2 separate regions of the Homo sapiens genome follow, and region 2 is linked to region 1. The links come from fine-mapping of genetic effects on gene expression. A gene starts in region 1. The other region holds a variant in brackets. All regions are shown on one strand. Distances are between the middles of the regions.

What was found. PIP is the estimated chance that this variant, and not a neighbour inherited with it, causes the effect.
Region 2: its variant is fine-mapped to the expression of GRM8 in lung (TOPMed, PIP 0.92).

What each region holds. Positions count from the first base shown.
Region 1 is chr7:127,246,955-127,257,813 of GRCh38, forward strand. It overlaps GRM8 (glutamate metabotropic receptor 8), which reads right to left and starts at 5,987. Exons shown (of 11, transcript NM_000845.3): 1 at 5,843-5,987. RefSeq lists an enhancer at 6,825-7,074 and a silencer at 7,195-7,254.
Region 2 is chr7:126,883,938-126,894,796 of GRCh38, forward strand. All of the region lies in intron 6 of GRM8 (glutamate metabotropic receptor 8), which reads right to left. Among named protein-coding and RNA genes, the nearest start is that of MIR592, 170 kb to the right of the region's middle. The variant T/G (reference allele first, on the strand shown) is at 5,404.

The DNA of each region.
Region 1 (10,859 bases):
TCCCAGAAGGTGGGTCCTGTCCTTGGAGAAAGACCCCAGTGCTGCAGGGACTCACTGTGGCAGCACAAGGAAAGGGAATGGCCCTGCCCCTCCACTGCAATCTTTCAGAAAGGTGCACATCTTCAATGCTTAGCTCTGGAAGAACACTAACATATTAATTAGGAAGGGACAATCTGGGGGCATTTCCAGGGAGGTGATTTCTGAATCTCTCAAAGGGCTGAGAAGATCCAATGCGGTTTGTCCAAACACTTCTGCTCCAAATGAGGTCTCCTGGCCAGGTTGATGTCAAGGTGATGTCAGGTGGAACACACCCACCAACGCATGCAGGGTCTCTCTGGGTCTGCCATCACATCTTCCTTGGGCATTTAGCAGGTATGATTAAAATATGATAGGGTAAAATCCTCACTGAGGAATACCATTATCCAAGAATTGTAATTTTTTTCTCATAAAAAGGCCAAAGCAGCATTCCTATGCTGCATTCCATTCAGCTCTTTAACAAAAAGGTTAAGCTGAATATTCTCATCAATTCATATGACTGCTCACACTTGCAGCTCTTTTGGTTGTTTTGAAAATGCATCGTATTTCTGTATCATCTCCCATGCTGCAATATGTGTGCATGTCTATGGATTCTTGGTGGGGCAGAGTGAGGATGGGGCAGACAGAGCTCTCCCTTGGCAACAGACGCTTGGAATCGGATCTTTGTCTGACAGTCACTGGCTGGTAACACTGAACATGTCCCCTCACCCCTATGTGCTTCCATTTCCTCATCTGTGAAACGAGTGAGATGGACCACGTGATCTCTAAGGTGTCTTCCAGCTTCCTATTCTGAGATTCTATTACTTAATAATAAGGGAATATGAGATTATGCTCAAACATCAGAGCAAGGCTTTGCCAACTGAACACAATAACTGATTTTGTTTGCAAGTTGAGTGACTTTTTTTCATCAGTGAGAGGATTGTGAAAGCTCTTCTACACAAGCCAGCCTCATATTTTAAAAAATCTGATACAGGAGAAGCTCGACTTACTAAACAGATAAATTGGAAAGTAATTATTTGCATTACAGAAGAATTCACCACAGGTTTCCTTTAAATAGCTAAATCCCAGGCATTTAAAAAAAAATCTGATTTAGGAGAATTCAATTTGTGCCTTTATTTTTCCAATAACACAGCTATTGCACAAAAAGACCATATTTAAAGTAATGAGAAGCTACTTTTTATAATATGTATCAGATAAGAAGAGAGAAAGTGGGTGACATCAACACTTACTGATTGCCTGCAGTGTGCCTGGAGCTGCAGACACATTATTTCATTTCCCTCTAAAATACAACTATGAGGATGGTATCACAGCCTCCATTCAGGATCTAAGGAACCTGAAAACAGAAAGATTATATGACTGTGTCTAAAGTCTCAGGCGAGAATTCAAATGCAGGACTGCCATTATGTTCCTTCCCTTACTCCATGCCCCATGGGGGCAGGAGGCCATGCTGGATCTCAAACTAACCCTGATTTGATAATGAGGACTGGGAGTGAGATGTTCTAGAGTCCTAGGAGACACTGATTCTAGTCTTACTTCCCCCAGTACTCACTGTATAGCACTGGGCAAGTCACTTAACCAGATCTCAGTTTCTTGGTTTCTAAAATGGGGAATGATTTTCCCCCATCTCCCAGTTTGTGAAATCCAACAATATAATGTGTGTCAAAGTACTTTATAAACTGCCAAGTGCTATAAGAATGCACAGGGATACTATTAGTCTAACAATCTGTCCTAGAACTAAAATATGTTACTGGTGTATTGTACTTAGAAGATCTAAGAAAACCACTTTCTCATCACGCTTGGGTCTAGTCAGACCTTAACAACGGTCACAGGTCCAAAAAAAGTCAACCCTGGCAAGCCTATATGGAGAGCACAGAGCTTGAAGGAAAACTGGAAAGGACGCAAGAAGAAGTCAATGGAACTACCATGCCTGACCTGGAAAACTAAAGGTCATGGACACTGAGCATCTAAATCGCTATTCTGAAGAAAGTGGTGACAAGATAATCTCCTGTTGTGAAAACAAGACAACCGGAAACCTTCCTAAGTTGTAGGTACAATATAATGCTTCTACCGCTGGGTCATGACCACTGGAAAAGTCAGCCAATAAATAGCCAGCAGCTTTCTAGCTTTAGGCATAACCCTGCCTGGAAAAGTATGAAATTGGCAACACATGTGTCCAACAATCTATACTCCTCTGAGGGCTCTCCTAGATATTCCTACTTCTGTTCACCTCCTGCCCTGCCCTGCCCTGCGCTGACCTCCCCAGAACTAGGTCTCTTCCTTCCCTCAGTGCCTTTGTTCTTTCATTACCTTGGCCCTCCCCAGGGAGTGAGTGGATTCATTAGCAGGTATCAAAGCCTGAAGATGCATTACTGTCATCCCCAAATGGAACATCTGCATTCTCAAAATGATTCCTAGGAGAGCCATAATTTATTTACCAAAGAAATATCACCATTAATAATGGTTAAGGCTAGCAATGCAACAAGCCAGAGCAGAGAGCTAGGAGTCAGGAGCGTCTCAACAGTACCTCTCAAATCATTCCAACAGCATTGCCCACCACTGAGAAAGGGTGTCCTGGGATGAGACAATATTATGCTCAGCGTCCCTCCCAGTGAGTGGGTGAGTTTGTCGCAATTTGTCAAATTACCAAGTAGAAATGAAAATCAAAGAAAAAAGAGAGAAAGCCCAAATCTAAATTCCAATTCCTAGCAGAAAGAAAACCCTCTCTTGAAATGGAAACAATAAGCCAGCCAACTCTCAGCTCATAGCCTCTCCTGGGAACAACATGAAGTGGCCGTCCCTATTGAATGAACCACATTTGTGAGTCTGGGGATGCCCAGTCAGAGTCTATCAAGAAAACAGCAAGTTTCCTGAACCTCCGCAAGCCAGCCAACTTGACAGACATGGAGATGTGGCCAGGTCTTGGCTGTGGGTCCAGGAAGAGAGAAATTCAAGCAGCATCTTCTTTTAAGACACTGGGACAGAGCAACTCCACTCCCCCCAACTAAAGCAAGGTCATCTTTATGATGGGCATTCTAACTACCTGAGAAAGGTGGTAGGAAGGAAACTTGGAAGGAAAAAAACATGTGTGTAGTGTGCTGTACATCGTGCCCTGAAGACAATGGAACATTCATACACAAAGATTGGCACGCAATTGCCAATGTGAATGTCAGACGGGTTATTTGCTGCATAAATACCAATTAAACAAGCCCCGCAGCAGCTTCAACCTGCTCAGCCAACTTTGAAAAGAGCACATCTCTCCAGACCTCTAACTTTCTCCTGCACTCACTGGAGCTCAGCTCTTCCTTTTCTCTATTCCTTTTGGATGTAGATGTTTTTAGAATTATTCAAGCAGCCATAACTTTCGAACGGTGCATAACAGGGCAGAACTAGCTAGCACAATCCAAACAGAACAAATTGAGCCTAAGGAACAGTATACAGCTGTGTTCTCAGTATCTTCTTCTTTATTCCGGGTCAATTGTCTCCTACAAAGCCTCCCGTCATCTATTTCTCCCCACATCCCTTATTCAAAAGCAAGAATTCTCTATCTTAGACATGGTACAACCTGTAGTTGACTCTAAAATGGAAAAATTGCATTTTAAAAAACCTTGGTTCATTTTCCCTGACGGAGGAAGCTTTTCTTTTCAAAATTATCAAGCCACACGTTTTCAAGAACCAGAGAATGAATTGCACACAGCTGATTCTGCCTCCTACAGAGATCTTTCACGGTATTATTCACAAGCAAGTGACCAAGGTAAACTAAAGTGGTTTCTGTAGCCATTTGCAATTATTGACAAACAATTTCATAACGGAAAGTGGAAATTACAGGCAAGTGCAATAAGCTGTTTATCCACGATCTACCTGCTGGTGGCTCTTTTTCTCTATTTTTCTTTCAAGCAAAATACAAGCTACCATAGGAATGCTTTTCTCCCGTTCATGATTTTTCTTGTATCTCCACCACCAACCCTGTTTTCCAGTTCTGTCAGTTGGCAGGATTTGTATTCAATCGCGGTAGTAGCCCAGACTCTAGTGTATTCTTGGGTGTTCCAGAGACTCCCGCACCTTCAGGTTTGTGGGAAAGGATCCCCCAAATGGCAAATAAGGCACTCCCTCCCGGGGTGGGACTTGCTTAGGGGACTTAAGGGTTTCTGCAACCGGCGAGGGGGTCTGTTTTCACCCCCGCTATCTTGGGTGCGCAGACACTCTCTGACACCAGGCTTCACAGTTTGGGCCACGGGGGAAGTAATTCCCCAGGGAACCGCGGGGGTGCGGTTTTGCGCAACTGGGTGACTCGCGTGTCCCTCCGCATTTCATTTGCACCAAGGGAGCGCGTGTCAGACGAAGGGAATTTTTTTTTCTTTTTTGGTGATTCTGTTATTTTTTCACCAACTGTACGAAGCTCAAGGGATATCCGAGCTTTCTGGCTGGGCGGATGGGCTTCGCGCTTGGCATGGCTGAGCGGTCCATCTCTACCTCTCCGTTTCTATCTCTACCATAACAGCGACCACTCAGCCCGCCAGGAGCCCCTGTTTCCCAGCGCAGGTTCCTTTTTCTTCTCAGTTCCTTGGGCTGTTGAAGCCGGGTTCTGGGTAGATAGAGACTGGGGCCGTGGGGAGAGCGCCAGGCTGCTTTTGCCTTTCCCGCGCCCCGGGGCATTCCGGCGCGCTGGGGATGCAGCCTCCGCCCCCGCCGCACCTGGCCGCCCGAGCGCCCGCGCCCACGCCCCGCGCGGGGCCGCCCGAAACTGGGGCCGCGCCAGCCGCGGGAGCTACCGAGGAGCTGTTGGGGTGCGTTTGCCTTTGCTTTTTAAACAAGATCCCCGAGACCTTTTCTCCATCCCCCCAACCCCCAGCAGGACACGGAACTCCGGCGTTTCTCGAAAGCCACAAAAGAGGGGCACGGAAATCCCAAGCTCGCCGTGCTAACTCGGAGAACGCAAACTCGAGGCAGAGCGTGCGCCGTGCGGGGATGTGGGTGTCGAGGACCCCGAAGCGCCCGGCTTCCCCCGCGACCCCCATCCTCCCTAGATCCTGGTTAGACATCCATCCAGCCCACGCTCAGAGGGCGGGGGTTACCCCGACTCATCCCGGAAGCCGCTAACTTCAGAAATCCCTCCTGTTAGGTTCGCGAAACGAAGGTACCTCGTCATCTCGGCGGGGCAAGTCCGGATTCCACCAGGGCAGGTCCGGGAGGTCACCCAGGGCAGACGATCCGAGGCAGAGCGCTTTAAAATCCTGCCGCCGCACGCCCAGTCAGAGCGCCGAGCGCGCCTGCCCCCTTCCCGTCACCCTTCAGTCTCCCATTCGCCGACTAAACTTTTGGGGGATCACATCTCCAAGCCTTGGGAGTTCCGGGTAAAGTCTCCCTCTTTTCTGAACCTCTTTACTGTAATGTAATCATGGGCAGACAAGAGGGGTGGCTGCCTTGTTCTTTGCAACGTAAAATCAACAGACACCCAATCAAGCTCCAATGCCCGGCCAGCCCCTCGCCCCCTGGTGCCCACTCTCCTTCTCCCCCCATTCCCGTCACCTCCGCCCGCTATTTCTCTCACAGACTACGGACATGCAGGGCCATCTACTTGTGCTCAGGAAAAACAAATCACTAGAGTGATATGAGAAGGAATGGTGCACCTGGCTGTCCGCTGAAAGGTTTTAGAGAAGAAAACGGAAAGGGGAATAAAACGGGGGGATTCTCCTTTTCCAACAAGCAGGGCGTTTTGGGGAAGTTTGGGGGCCAGGGGCTTTTTGTCCCGTGGTTCGGCACTTGCTTTCCTCGGAGCCGCTTTCTGCTGCCGGGCGGCGAGTCTTACCCTGCTCCCCGCAGAGGGCGCGGTGAGGAAGCCCGCCGGGGGCCCGCAGCTCCATGTCAGCGCCGCCGCCGCCGCCGCCGCCGCCGCGTGAGGCGAGCACAGCGGCCGCACTTGTGGCTGATCTCTGGGCTGAGGGGGCTGAGCTGGCCTAGCAGGCGCCAAGTCTCTTCCATGTGAATAACAAATACTCCCACCGGCGGCCGCGATTGGTCTGCGCCCGGCGCCTCCCGATCCTCCGCCCGCGGCCATTCACCCGGCGCGGCGCGGGGAGCCGCGGCCAGGATCGCGCCCGGGATCGCCAATCGCTTCGCGCCAACCAGTCACCTCGGGAAGCGGGAGGAGGAACCCCCGAGGGGCGGGAGCCTCTGGATTTCGGTGTCACCCAGCGGCCCTGGCGCGGGCAGGGAGGGGGACCCTCGGCCCGCGGATCCCCCTCCGCTCTTCAGCCTGAAGCGACGAGGAGACCAGAAATGTCAATAGTTCTGATTTTTAAAAATCATCCCCCCTTCCCCGCCCCCAAGAAAAAGGGGAGGACCCAACTACAGAGTGAGAGGGTGGGAAGAAGCGGGAGCGGTAGAAGAAGGAATATGGTTGTGGAGGAGCCCAGCGGCTCCGGCTGCCTGGCGAGCCCGGGACCGGCGCGGGGAGGCGCGACGCCCGCCCGAGCACAGCGGGCAGCACCCGCGAGCCCGGGTCCCCGGTGAACACAGCTCCAGAAAGCGTCACCGAGAATAACACATGGTAGATGACAAGTGTCCCGCCACATGCTTTCTTTTCGGGAATGCTTAAAGTAGAGCCGGCAAGCCGCGCGGTTCCCTTGCAAAGTTTGCCTGGCGCCGCGCGGCGGTTCCGCCATTTGTCCCGCCCCGCGGCTCTGGCGATTGTCTCCCCACTCCCCGCCCCCGAGGGTCTGAGGGACGCGTGCAACAGAGTCCCCAGGGCTCGAGGTACCACACAGCGCGGTCCGCTGCGGGCACTGCGCAGGAAGGGGCATGGGTGGCTACCGGGACGGTCATTTTATTGAGATGATTCAAGGAGCCGCAGACGCGGGGCAGGAAACTCCGGGGGAGCCGTGCTCGGGTTCTGCAGGGAAACCTCGGGATTCCCTTCGCATGCCGCATGCGGAAACCTGCCGGGCTCGACGTGCACAGTCCAGCGCTCCTCCCCACTAGTTACTGCCCAGGCCCCCCGATCCTGCACCCGCCGGAATGAGAGAAAGTAGCCCCTCGCCGCCCAGCTCCCGGGTAGCTGCTCCGGCCGGGCCTTGCGTTGGTGAGAAAGTTCCATCTAGAGGCGGCCGCGCGCAACTGCAGGCGGCGCCCTAGGCCCGGGCGAGCCAGGGAGAGCGGGGCGCGGGGGGAGAGGGGGCAGCCCAGGAGATAAGGAGGATGGAGAAGGACGGGAGAGACCCCGAAAAGGCAAGCTCTAGACCCCCGTTCGGCATCTCTACAATGAATTTTATCTTCCTAAGCATCATGAACTTATAAGCATTATGTCAGGAATCTTTCATTAATTCCTGTATATATCGCCTGTTCTGTTCGGGTTATTTTAATTTTCACATCAACTCTGTGAGATGGTCAAAATTATTAAGCCCACTCTACAGATGGAGGCAGAAGCCGAGGCTTAGAGACACGGCTGGAAAGTATTACAGCCAGAAATCAGTGTCTGGCTTCAAAACCCCATAGCACTTCCTCCCTGGTGGTGTTGGCTTTTCCCAAGGCTGGTTGTAATGTGCGAAGTTTCGATTGAGGAAACAGCTGTCTCTCTCCTAATTTCAAAAAAGGACCCTTGCCCTTTGTCACTTAGAAAAAATCTACAGGTTTTCAGCCCAGGGCACCTCTTCCCCTTTCGTTCCCTTCCTTCTCCCATCTCATGAGAGGCTCTTTGATTGTTGAATCATTATTTTATAGCTGCAACCACAAAAGAGGGAGGGAGGAGGATTTGGAGAGAGAAAATGGGCTGGGTCCTCTGTCTGAAAACCTTTCTGCATAGGGAACCTCAATTCCCTGTGAATGTCTAGTGCAGCTCTGAAGAGGGTGATCAGTGTCCGGTGCCACTTGGGACAAGGAAGGTGGGAAGAGGGAAGAGCTCCTAATTTATGCGGAGATGGGGCTGGGTGGACTTCCTGGTTGCACGCCTGCGTGTAAGACGCTTTAAAGATTTTCTTTTCTTAGGGACTGGAAGAGATCCCTCCTCCCCCAGAAGTGTAAAGTAAGTGCAGTGGCCTGATTTCTATAGCAGGAAGCCCACTCCACCCCAAACTCCAGACCCATGATCCCGGTCTGAGCAATGATATCACAGATAACGTAGAGGTATGAATAAGTCCGTTTTAGACCATTTACTACGTGTGCATTGATAAATTTGAGGGGAAAAGAGACACGACGGAGGGGAAAGGCAGAGGAGGCCCGCAAATACGTTGGGCATCGACAACTGCTGACCACACATCGTCTTCAGGGTAGGCTAGAGGCCAGCTGCAGGGCCAGTTGGGTCGTTGCCTGGCATGAGCCAAGAGGGCAGCAGCCTGGTGCTCTAGTGGGCCCATTTTAATAATAAGGGCAATAAGGCTGGCTGTGGCTTTGGAAGCCTAAGGAGGCCGAGTGAGCCTCTTGGGGAAGAAATGCCTAATGAGCTGCCTTTCTCCTTTCCCTATTGATCATTACCTGCAGAGAACTGATGTCTTACAGGCACATCGCTGCCCTTTTTGGTGCAGCCTTCTGCGAGAAAACTAGACTTGATCTCTCCTAAGGAAAGTGCAAGTCCGATGCTTCGTTTTGCATCATCTTTAACTCTTGATACTCAAAATAGAACCATCACTCAAATCCTACATGGAATCTGGTCAATAAGAAATAGAGCCCTTCTATATATTCTTCAGTGTTTCCAATGGCTTTATCTAGTAGCCCCTGAGCAAGTGACACAGCCTTCTGTACAGGTTATAATTTGCCCATGTACAGGTTATAATTCGCCCAGACTGATAGCAACACTGGGACACAGGAAGAAAGATTGTCTCCAGGAGGGACTGGTCCTTATCAGTAACATTCACAGGAAAAAGTTATTGGCTGTACAACCTCTATTCGTCAGGGCCAAACACCATGATGCTGCTTGCTCATTGCTGCAATCTGAGTCAGGGGAGAGTGTCTGAAGACCAGGCCGTCCAGACATGCAGCTTATTCTAGAGTCATCCACCTTGCCTCCCCTTGGGATCCCACCCTCTGCAATACACACTGTGTCTTTGGAAAGTGTCTGACCTCATCCTCCATCCCACCCCAAATGTTTATTCAAACCAAGTATATTTCCTAGTAGTTAATCCTCCAGGAAGATTTGCCTATAATCTTCTCATTTTCAGTTGATTTAAAATGTGAGAAACTGCCCATGTGTTAGAAAATGCAAAAAACAATGCCATATGTTTGGGGTCCATTTAACTCAAGCTGTGATACATATTCCACACATGGAGATTTATGCCACAATTCCTGCTTTGGAGTAATCATTAAGGCTGAGAACCTTTGCAGGCTACTCACCCAAGAGAAATATCGACAGCATGATGCTCCCACATGGAGCAAAGCTGACAGGGGAAAGTGGGAATGGGATTTGTTTCTTTTGGAAACGAAGACAATATTTTTCTTGCTAGACCATCTGCACATGGCAGTGAGTGTACCATGTGGGTTTTGCTCAGTTTATTAGACACTGGCTGCTAGAAGCAAGATCAGACATGTTAGACTGACAGTCAGATAGAGCCAATGAGATTCATGACACCAATGTCATGAATGAGTGTGTTCTGCACTTCCACAGTCAACTCATACCTGCATACAGGAGTCATGGGAAAGATTCTTTAAGAATTTCTGACATATGGTATATGGGCATCTCTACTGGCTTCATTTGGGTTCCCCTAGAAGCACAACCTGAAACAAGGATTCAAGAGCAGGTAGTTTAAGAGGTGAAGGGAATCCCAGTACTCAGGTGGGGAAGTGAGCCAATAAAGGGTGCATTATCAAGCTAGGTATCACTGTAGGCACCTGGTACCTAATCCCAGTGGGGAACTCTGGAAGTCAGTGTAAAACACACAGCAGAGAGTGGGTCCAACTGAGGGATGAGGGAGCTGGGGTATCTATACACCAACACTTATAAGATGTTAGTTAAGAACTGCTACCAGATGATGTTTATTCTCTGGCAATTCTAGCCTATCACATGGATGGCAAAGCAGCCTCCAGAGATCATGTAAAGACCTCTGGAAAAAAAATGCAGGGGCTGGCAGTTAGTAGGCAGGTGATATGTAATCAGGGGTCAAGGACAAGACAATAAGGGCAGGTCACAGTTAGCCTCTGCAACACCTGTTTAGGCAAACCTCATAAAACTTGTACTAATCAAGGCAGTGCCTCTCTATGTGTGTTGCAAGGACCACCTGCCTCAAAATCACAGGGGTGCTGATTGTAAGCACAGATTTCTGGGCCCTATCCCAGAGCTGTTTGAATCAGACTTGCTGGGATGGGGCCTGGGAAGCTGCCTGTTTTGCAAACGTTCCAGGAAATGACGTTCACTAAAATTTAAAATGTACTACATTCAGGAAATCATTCTCCTCACAGGCAGCCAGCAGGCAGCACATTTAAATATATGAATACTTGCTTGCAATGCCTAAGGAGGCAGACCTGAGAAATGAGGAGCCCAGGGAAGGGGTGCCTATATGCTCATATCTGTCCATGGCCACAGAAGCTCTCTTTTCTCTCTTTTACTCCACTCTCCCTTTAGATGGGGTTTAACACTGAGAAGGTTCCATCGAGTATTTTCTGGGGGGAAAAAGAGGCTGAGCTCCACCCCTAACTTTGCCATTAATAAGTCATATTATCTTGACCCTTTCACATTTCTATACTGCAATTCCTGACCTATAACATGTGGTTGGCAAAAAGACACCTGTCCAGCCAAGGTTCATGTTCCCCTTTCAATAATGTAGAGTTTTTACTGGAAAGAGGCTGTCCCCTCTGCCACACACACTCAGGAACTACATATCCCTTCCCTCCCTTGCATC
Region 2 (10,859 bases), 360 kb before region 1:
ATGTGTATTCATGAAAGAAATAAAATTAGACAGGAGACAAAACAGATAATTTAGCAAGAAGTTATTAAGGGTGAATAATAGTATTCAGATCTATCTGTCATAAGGCCCTACAAATACTAAAATTAGCTGTGATTTTTTTCTATTAGTTCCCTAGGATTCTGCTAAAATCAGCATCCTCATGAGCACTGGTTAACACTATGGTGTAAATCATTTGCTGATGCCATAAATTAAAAACAAAACAAAAAACTATATTCAAAGTAACTGAGCTATAGGAACATCTCCTTAAAAGATGGAGGCATTAAGAGCATTTTCCACAACCGAGAACTAAATGTCATTCACCTGTGAATTAAAAAAAGGAAATCACGGGGGAAAAATGAGCAGCCAGATCAATTGCATAAACCTTTGTCAAAGATAGAAATGTTTATATGGGAGTTCTGTGGCTAAACAAAATGCAAACAGCCACATATTTTTTCAACCAACAAATGGATATCAGTAGCTTAAATAAACTCTTTCATCTTTTTATTTTTTTCATCCTTATCCTTGCTTTAAAAAAATGGAACACAGTATTTGTTGAAGATTTTATGCACATATTGCATCATAGCCCAATTTCTCAAACTCAAAGTCAATTTAGCAAATAGAAATGATAGCAGAAAAAACATATAATGTCCTGTTGGGAAGAACTGTCTTTCATTGTAGTGTGAACTTAATGACTGCATCACCTACCTTGAAGTATTTTTTAGGTCTAGTTATTCATTTAACAAAGGATTATCCAGTGCCTTCTATGTGACAGGCACAGTGGCCACAAAGATAAGCAAAAAGATATGCTCCTTATCTTCATGGAGCTTACAATTTAATAAGAGATAAATATGCATCAAACAACCCCACAAATAAATGTACAACTGTAACTGTAATAAAAGCTAAAATGAGTATGGTGCACTATGGGCATACAGTAGGGAGATCTGACCTAATCAGAGAGTTAAGACAAGTTAGGGGCCTTGTATCCTATTCCTGGAATCTTGCTCATCAGCAAACAGCTGAAGGAAGTATTTGTAAGGATAGTATATCCCTCTGTACATCCCAAAGTCCTGTCCTGTGCACAGCCACTGACTACATACCTCTGCATCCAAAGCAGACTCAGCTTTCAGCTGGCCTTGCTGAGAGTGAGCCCAGCATATCTTGGAAAATGAATTCACCACACTCTGGCACAAACCCCATATCATCCAACAGCTTCTTCAACCAGAGCAGCTCAGTCTTGGTCCTTATCCATGAATGATGGTTGCAGAACCACGCTGGCTTTACAGGGATCTGGGTAGGATCCATTGCCCCCACCCTGAGTGTATTCATAGTGATGTGCTATATGGTTTAGAAGCCTTGGTAAATAAGTCAAGGTAGAACTGTCTCAACCCAGAACTTTCTTCAGGTAAGAAGTATGCTTCCAACAGAAGTTCCTAACAGGAAGCAGCTATCACCATCAAAGGGGAGTACTGAAATCATTCCAAGACTAACCCCCACAGTCTACTCTTTTCTTCCCTATCATCTGTGCCCCTAAAGCAGTCAGGAGAGTTCCCTAGCCAGACCTAACTCAGTACTTAAATATCTTTGATAGGCCTGGGAAACAGAACACAGGAAGAAAAGTCGTGGCTTTTCACCCCAGCAGTGGAATCTATTCTTGTTTTTTGTAGCATGAGATGTTTACACCTAAGGAACAGAAAGTGAACTTAAAATGTCTTTAATTAAGAAATTAGGTTTAAATGATTCCATATAACAAATCTGATTTAATTTTAAATTTTTGAATACATTTACTCATTCAAGAATGGTTTCAAACCCTCCAGGGGTGAGATAAATGGCAATTCTAGCTATCTTCTACCTTCAAATATAACTTTCCTGAAATAAAAACAGGAAATCCAATTTGTAATCACAATAAAGTTTCTTATCTAAATCCAAAGGCCAGTTTTTTTCCCCTTGGAAACATAAGCGCCTGAAGCAGGGGCTGCATTTTGATATTCTTTGTGGCACTTGGCACAGTATAATTTCTATGAAGGTGCCTTGTAAGTAGCCTGGGGTGATTATGGTGGTGTAATTTTCATCACAACCACAGATAACCCAGGTAACTGTGCAGGTACAATGACGTTCAGCTTAAGTGGCTTTGTTCCAAACAAGGGCCTCTATTGTAAAAACAAAGCAGGTGTTAAAACATAGAGATATTGAAGATAGGGGTCATTTTACATACTAACATGCACTGAAAAGTAAATCTGAGCTTCCCCACATTATTGCCAGGAATTACGGTATACTTAAGATGAATCCATTAAGTACACAACTGGACAAATGATGAAATTTCATGTTAGCAAAATTCCTGACATATTTCACACCTCTTACTCTATTAAATTACACTTTTTTAACAAAGAAAAGCTTTCCTACTGCTACACATTTTCAATTTTTTCTCCTATGTATTTCATATTAAAATTTCAAAATAATTTGATCAGAGATCTAGTGCACAAAGGTGCCTAAGTGAACAATAATCACCAAAAACACTTGCAATGGCTGCAGTAGTGGGATTCCCATCAGTGATGTCAACAGTGATGCCAAGAAGACAAAAGAAGAGGGAAGGAGCTAATAACAAAATCCATAGAAAACAGGCTTCATTAATTTCTGAACAGGCTACATAAATCCATTAATGCCTACAGATTAATAACATGGTCATATAAATGAAGTTACTGCCTACGTGTTTTCTGAAAAACATCATTGCTAATTCATCTTATACTGTCAAAATTTCTTTATCCAAAATGTATATATTTTTGAGTAATATCTTCTCAAGAAAGTAATACTTTCTTGTAATACTCAAGAAATACCCTCAATTCCCAAGTACTACAGTTTATATGTGACCAGTTTTTGATATAATAAAATATATAAAATGTAAAGTTAAACCTTAGATGTCTATCTAGTGCTTATTCTGAGTGGCAATGAAATAATGTAATAGAACACAGCAAAAGGCCGAAAGAAGGAAGAGCTGTATTTTGGGAGTGCAGAGAAGTATTACTTCAGAAATGTGTCCAGACAAAGAAAACTCATTCAAGGGACGTGGATAAGGGCCAGGTGGACTAAGGAAGAGGTAATCTATCTGGGTGTCTCAAAAAGGAAGTTTTCATTCTGGAATCTGAAAAGAGGATGAATGCACCTGAAAATCAAACCAGCAGAGAGTGTTTCAAGAAGTAGAGTTAGAGAGAAAGAATCAACTAGAGATAGGTACATCAGACATAGGAAAGGAAACGTGTAGCTAACTGATAGCTTCCATAAAGACAAATTGAATAATAAGACTGTGTATGGTTTACAAATGCAGGCAGTATTTTTCTCGAGGTGTCTTTGTAGTGAATCTACTATCTTTATATTTGCCATGTTAAAGATACTACTGAGCTGCCCAGAGAGCAGTCAAGGAAAAAGATTTTTGGCCACAGGGCTGTGGTCCTTGAGAAATCCTGGAGTTCCTGTGTGCTTAGGAAGTTATCAGAAACAGAACATGTTGTGAGTGTCTGTGCTTGAAGTGAAAGAAGGGAGATATTGAGAACAGCAATGAGTTTGCCCCTTTTTGACAAATCTTACTCTCTGCTTATTTATATCAAATTATCATCATCATCACCCTTATCTCCAGTGATTACCCAAGTCTCTTGTTCACACTCCTCCAAACTGTCTACATATACCTCCCCCTCGCAATACACACTGAAGTTATTAAGAATTGAAAGAACAAATTGTTTGCCCATCCTCATAATCATCTGTCCTAAAAGGTCATTTAAACATTTAATCAAACCTGCAGTTCTCCAGGGGAACGTGTGAGTCATGCCGTTCATCCCACACACTCAAGCGGGGCTTTGTGTCAGTCTTAGGAATGATGCAGACTGGTCCCACAAAGAAATCAGTCACAGGGACATTTTCTGTCATTAGGCAGAGAACAAAAAGCTAACAGTTTCCTGGACTCTACTGAAATAAACTTTTGCACCAATTAATGAAACCCCTATGGAAAGCATCATGCCAGAATCCAAGGAGGCTGTCCATGTATTGACATGCAAACTAACACTCCTGCAAAAGAGGGGGTAGGTGAGCATCCTAAGTCAATATGAATTATTTGTTTTTCTGCTACTTTGGATCAGCTATACCACTGCTCCCTTTCACAGGTACAAATACACAAAAGAGGGCTTCTGTTTCATAAAAGTGGCTCTGACAAATGACACTCCTCAGGGTGCTGAACCCAACACTGGCAGCCAGCCCATTCTGTGCCCTCAGCCTGCCAGTACTTTTCACTTCCAAAGCTATCAGCCTGCTTCAGACCTATGCCTTCACTCTGACTAGGGACAAAGAAAAGATCACAGTGGAAATCCTTCTGCGTGCTGCTAATAAGCCTATTTAGAGTCAATGAGAAAGCCTCATTTTGCACCACCAATAAAGGCCTTCAAGAGTACTACTGAATCAGAGAAACCGAAATGTTTCTATGTACTCCCTGTCCTCATTTTACATCAGCCTGACAGGTGACACTCAGCAAAATATCGAACAGGATGACCTCCAAGTTTCCTTCCTTCTCTAATGTCCTCTGGTTCTCTGTTGGCCAGTAGGATTTAAATTTTATTTAAATTATCTCATATTCTGATGGATTCTTGAGCCCCTTTTCAGTTTTAGATAATCTCCCTGTGGTTTGCTGAATTGGCATATCTGGAGTCTAGGATCTCTGTTGGCAAAGAACTGAATATTGCTCCCATCCAACAGCTTAGCTAGCACTGTCTATTTTCTTTCTGAAAGAGATCTGGGTAGGAGACAGGTGCAGAGCATCTTTCCACCTCCCACAGAAGGGCTAGGGAAAGCTTTGTTGTGCATGAACCATGAACAAAAGGATAATTCAAACCAGCAATAATGTCCTTAATAAAAAATAATAATCATTTTCCCAAATGAAAATCTACAATTCTAACCATTTGATCACAGTGATGTAAGCAAACAAGCCTGCAGCTAAAGGTTATATATGGGTCAAAGATTTAATGGAAAGTGATACATGGGTGGAATGACATCACCTATTTGTCAGAATACTAACTCCTCTACCATATCCTATGTCGGCCCACCGTTGGGGTGTAAGGGAAAGGTGCATAAAGAGATAAGTACCCATTTCTAAACATAATGCAAGTTTGACATTTAAGCTCAATAGTTTAGCTATAGAGCGTTTTGGTAACATAAAAAGAAACCAGAGCAATTTGAGTGACCTTTGTGAAAGACAGGCATAAAGGTTGCAACCACCACTCTCACCACCAAAATCTAAAAATGCGGAAAATAAGCATTTATCAAAATTTCTCAGAGACTATGTTACCCACCCAAGATTCCACAGCTAGGATGCAGTGTTTGAGTGTCTACTAACAAGGCTGGGAATTA[T/G]TAAACACAGAAAGCATAACAGAAACACTTAGTTCCTCTTGGGTCTTATGGTCCAGTTGATAAAACTTCCAGCACTTTGAACAGATTTTCACTTACTGCAAAGAAAAATGCTTAGCTGAATTATTGTCTATCTGGGTTGCAAGTAGCACACCCCCACCATCTGTAAAATAATATTTTGGTAGACTAGAGGGCATGTTGTTAAAGGAACCCAAAGGAGAATTGTTTTGATAAAGTTAGGGACAATCTCTAATATGTGTGTTTTATAATTCTGCAACTTATGTAGAAATATATCTGAATGAAATGTTGTTGAAAAGCTGTATATCATTTTAATTTTAATAAATCAAATCACATTTTATATTCACTGACTGAGAAGCTGGTACTTAGGAAACCTGTGAGAAATTAGTTTAATAATTTGTGTGTATTGCAAATATTGACCTTCTGACTTAATTCAGAATTTCTATATAAAAACAAAAATTTAATTCTTTAATATCTTAAAATGAGGGATGCTCATGCCATGTTAAATAAATCATTTCCACTTATATTTAATACATTGTATTAGTTAGGATGCTTGCAGCTGCAAATGATAGAAAATCCGATCCAAAATGGCTTTAAAAATTGTTGTTCTATAGGTCTATCACCCTAGACTTCTGCTGTCCAATATGATAGTCATTAGCCACATTTAAATGTAAAGAAATCAAAGTTACATTTACATTTAAGTGTAAAGTAATTAAAGTTAAATACAATTTGAAATTCTATTTTTTCAGTTTGCACTAGCCATATTCCATCAAGTGACCAATAGCCACATGTCACTAATGGCTGCTCTATTAAACAATGCAGATATGGAAAAACCTTCTTCACCTCAGAAAGTTCTATTAGATAGTGCTGGCTTCAAAGAAAAGGAAGTTGTTAAATCAGTAAGCAACAGTATCTGTTATATTCCCTATGTAGCAGGCAATAATCTTTATGCATATTATTTCCTTTAACTTCCCAACCGCTCTATGAGGCAAGTATTATTTTAATGTATTAGTCTGGACTCTAGGTTGCTAGCTAAAAATGGGAAAACATAATTAGGAGAACCTTGAACTATCTCACATATCTACAAGAAAAGCCTGGTTAAGGTCCTCATCACCATCAGAACTCTTTCCATCTGTCACCTTTATTCTGTTGCACAAGTCAATATTATTCTTCCAGGTCAGCTTCCCCCTTGTGGTGGAAACTTCCCAGCCTCATATCTCACAGCCTCAAACTACTGCCTCCCACCCCCTGAGAGAGAATAATCTTCCTCCTTTCACTCCCATTTTAGATATTACTCGGAAGGACTCTGATAATTTAGCTTTAGTGAAGAGCTCAGTGTTAAATCAATCAGTTGTGGCTGAAGAGACACAAAGGAGAGGATCAGGGTTGTAGAATAGAGACATGGCCAGAGGGGCTCCACTTATGGACAGTGAAAACAATTTCTACAGAAACTGGAATGGCAGGGTCCTCTCCTTCAACATATTTCTGAGTCCTCAAGGCTCTATCTCAGGCCCTCTGCAATTTCCACTCCACATACTTTCTGGATCTGTCTCACCAAGTCCCATTAATATACTAGTGAGGCCCCAATTCTCTGTCTCAGCAAGACCTTGTATTCTTAGCTTCAGACTCACATAACCAAGTAACCCTTCCCAGACATCTGCAGCTCTATATCTCATAGGATCCTTAAACTCAGTATCTCCCACAAAATTCATCATCCTCCTTCCCCCTCTTCCCCAATCATTCATTATATCAGGAATGCTCTTTCAATCAATGACCGAATTTCCCATTCCAAGAATCAAGGCATCATCCATGATTTGTCCTCTCCTTTAACATGCAATTAATTGCCAAGCCCTACATATATCCCTAAAATGTCTTTTTATTAATATATCCATCTACTTCTGTCCATTCCTAGTACAGTGCAACCATCATAGGCTGGGCCACTATCATTTCTGGAAAATTACTGTAGTATCTCATGGGTCTCCCTTCCTCCAGTGTTATGCCTCACCAATACATTATCCATACTACAGCCAGAATAATCTTTCTAAGATGGTGATTCTATTATTCTGCTTAAAACCTTCTGGTGCCCATTCATTGACTTTCAAAACATTTTTCAACTGCCTCTTGAGGCATATAAAGTGTTATATGATCTGTCCCTTGCCTAGGTCTCTATCCTTACTCTCTTCCTATCCCCCTCTCCTAGTCTCTACAACTGCCATCCTTTCTCTTGCCCACTGGTCTTTGTGCCACCCTCTGGTTAAAATAATAATACTACTGATAATCTCTTTTTCTTAATTCTGCTCATATTTTAGTCTCAACTTCAATGACACCAATCTTCTCCCCTAGGCTACATCAGTTCTCCCTGCTATATGCTGGCTATTCGCTTAACACATTGCATTGCAGGAACTGGGCTAAATTATTCACCTTCCCAATTAGACTGTAAGCCCCATGAGGACAATAACCATTTTTGTTTTGCTCACGAACATGTCCTTGACATCTAATAGCTAGTGCTTGAAAAAGAGCAGAAAATAAGCTGAATTTAATTCTTTCATTTAATCCACAAATATTTTAAGGAAGCCTATTTGTGCCAGATGCCACCCAAGGCACTGAGATTCAGCTGTGAATGAAACAAAATCTCTTCCTATATGAAGCTCATGTTCTTGCAGGGTAAAAAAAAAAAAAAAAAAAAAACCCTAATAAACTAATAATTTTTTAGAAAATGCTTAAATTGTATAAATAAATATAGTTTTAATATTTGTATAACTTTTTACATTTTTATTTTTACTTTTTAAATTTTATTATTATTATACTTTAAGTTTCAGGGTACATGTGCACAATGTGCAGGTTATTTACATATGTATACATGTGCCATGCTGGTGTGCTGCACCCATTAACTCGTCATTTAGCATTAGGTATATCTCCTAATGCTATCCCTCCCCAAACCCCACAACGGTCCCCAGAGTGTGATGTTCCCCTTCCTGTGTCCATGTGTTCTCATTGTTCAATTCCCACCTATGAGTGAGAACACGCGGTGTTTGGTTTTTTGTTCCTGCAATAGTTTACTGAGAATGATGATTTCCAATTTCATCCATGTCCCTACAAAGGACATGAACTCATCATTTTTTATGGCTGCATAGTATTCCATGGTGTATATGTGCCACATTTTCTTAATCCAGTCTATCATTGTTGGACATTTGGGTTGGTTCCAAGTCTTTGCTATTGTGAATAGTGCCTCAATAAACATACATGTGCGTGTGTCTTTACAGCAGCATGATTTATAGTCCTTTGGGTATATACCCAGTAATGGGTTGGCTGGGTCAAATGGTATTTCTAGTTCTAGATCCCTGAGGAATCACCACACTGACTTCCACAATGGTTGAAGTAGTTTACAGTCCCACCAACAGTGTAAAAGTGTTCCTATTTCTCCACATCCTCTCCAGCACCTGTTGTTTCCTGACTTTTTAATGACTGCCATTCTAACTGGTGTGAGATGTTATCTCATTGTGGTTTTGATTTGCATTTCTCTGATGGCCAGTGATGGTGAGCATTTTTTCATGTGTTTTTTGGCTGCATAAATGTCTTCTTTTGAGAAGTGTCTGTTCAAACAAATTTACAAGAAAAAAACAACCCCATCAAAAGTGGGCAAAGGACATGAACTTTTTACATTTTTAAAATTGTATAAATGAAACCTTTTTAAATGACATTTTCCATTATGTACTCCAAGTTGTCTTTTCATTATTCTGTTACCTCATTAGAGGTAGTATGGAAATAAAGTGCTTTCCCCTCAAATAGTATAAATGTAATTTTATTTTTTTAGAAAAACAAAACACTATGGAGTCATGGCATTTATAATGAAGTAATCAAATATTCCAATTAAATATTCAGGTAACCAAATATTCCAGTTAAATATTCAGGTAACCAAATACTCCAATAAAATTTGACTGATTTTATAGGACACAGGACTATATGTGTTTCTAGAATCATATTCCCATTTAAATTAGCATCGCAGTCAGGAATTTAAAGACAAACTATCAGAATAGTACATTTTCTTCTTAAATTACAGTAAAAGCCCTTTTATAACTATGTTGAGCTTTTCCTTTTATTAAAAAATATCATTCCAACAATTAAAATATTTATCAAATGCATGCCAAGCTAGGCACCATGCATCATATCTACATCACTGTAATGAAGAACAGGAGGACTATCTGGCCATACATTATAGACCAATTAATTAACTTAACAGATATATAATGCTAAGCATATGCTAAGTCCTGAGGATACAGACCCTGCTTACTAGCAACTTACAAACTATTGTCTGACTATTATCTTCCTCACAAAATATAAGCTCCTTGAGGGCAGATGTTTAGCACAATATAGAGTTTAACAAATGTCATAAGTAATAAAAAAAAATCAAGACTCTTCGGTAGTCTTGATTTCTCAATTAGCCTTAGTAAGCTCTAATCACACTTAGTCTTAATTTCTCAATTAGCCTTAGTAAGCTCTAATCACACTTTATGTCTCCTTTGCCCTACTGTATCCAATCCTTTGTTCAGCTAGTTCTTTTGTTTAGCTATGTTCCTAAGAAGTTGTGGTAATTCTCTTGTATTTCAGCAAATCATATCTATGAGACTCTCTCAAATCCTCTGAGTTAAAAAGAATCCCAAGATAAAACATAGAGAAGAAATATTATTTTTGAAATATAGTCTCCTGTATTTATCTGCTTTGTATCACTTTTAGAAAAGAGGAGAAATCAAGTTTTCCTGATATTGAATCATCTATACATTGTTCCTTTTTAAAAGTTTGTTTGGTTTTAATGAATTGGTTCCCTCAACTGAAGTTTAATAGCCATTTAAAGGAAGACAATTTATCCTAATGTTTCTGTATTTTTCTAAACTTTCTCATCCTCTCTGGCCCAAGCCTTACCATAGTTTTTCAAATAATTGGTGATCAAAAATGCTGAACTGTCACCTGTTTGCCTATATACTCTTTTCCATTTGTGAGTTCTTCAGTGTAATATTCCAGAGATTGTGTTTATTCAGATACATTCATCTTCCAATCAATCAAGATAATGCCAGCTTCTGTTGTGGGTTTTGCAGAAAGGATTTCCTAGACTCCTGAATTCATTTTTTCTCTCTGTAGTGTGAGCATTTTTCTGTTTTAAATTATTTTCTGAAAAAATGTGAGTATTTACGTACTCGAAATTTTAACTAGAATTGCTTCCCTTCTAAAAATGTTAGTTTCTCAGACCAAATGCATCAATCTGACTCCCTCAGAAGTCAGGCGGTTCACAAAGAGGGAATACTTCACCTTAGGTGGCCAAGAAAAAAAACATACTGGCCCATATACCAGGAAAAATAGTAGAATGGGTCAGTGCAACTCAGCCCCACTTCGGTAAAGTTCTTCAGAGCAGGAAAGGATGAAGGAAAGAAGCAAGTATCAAATCA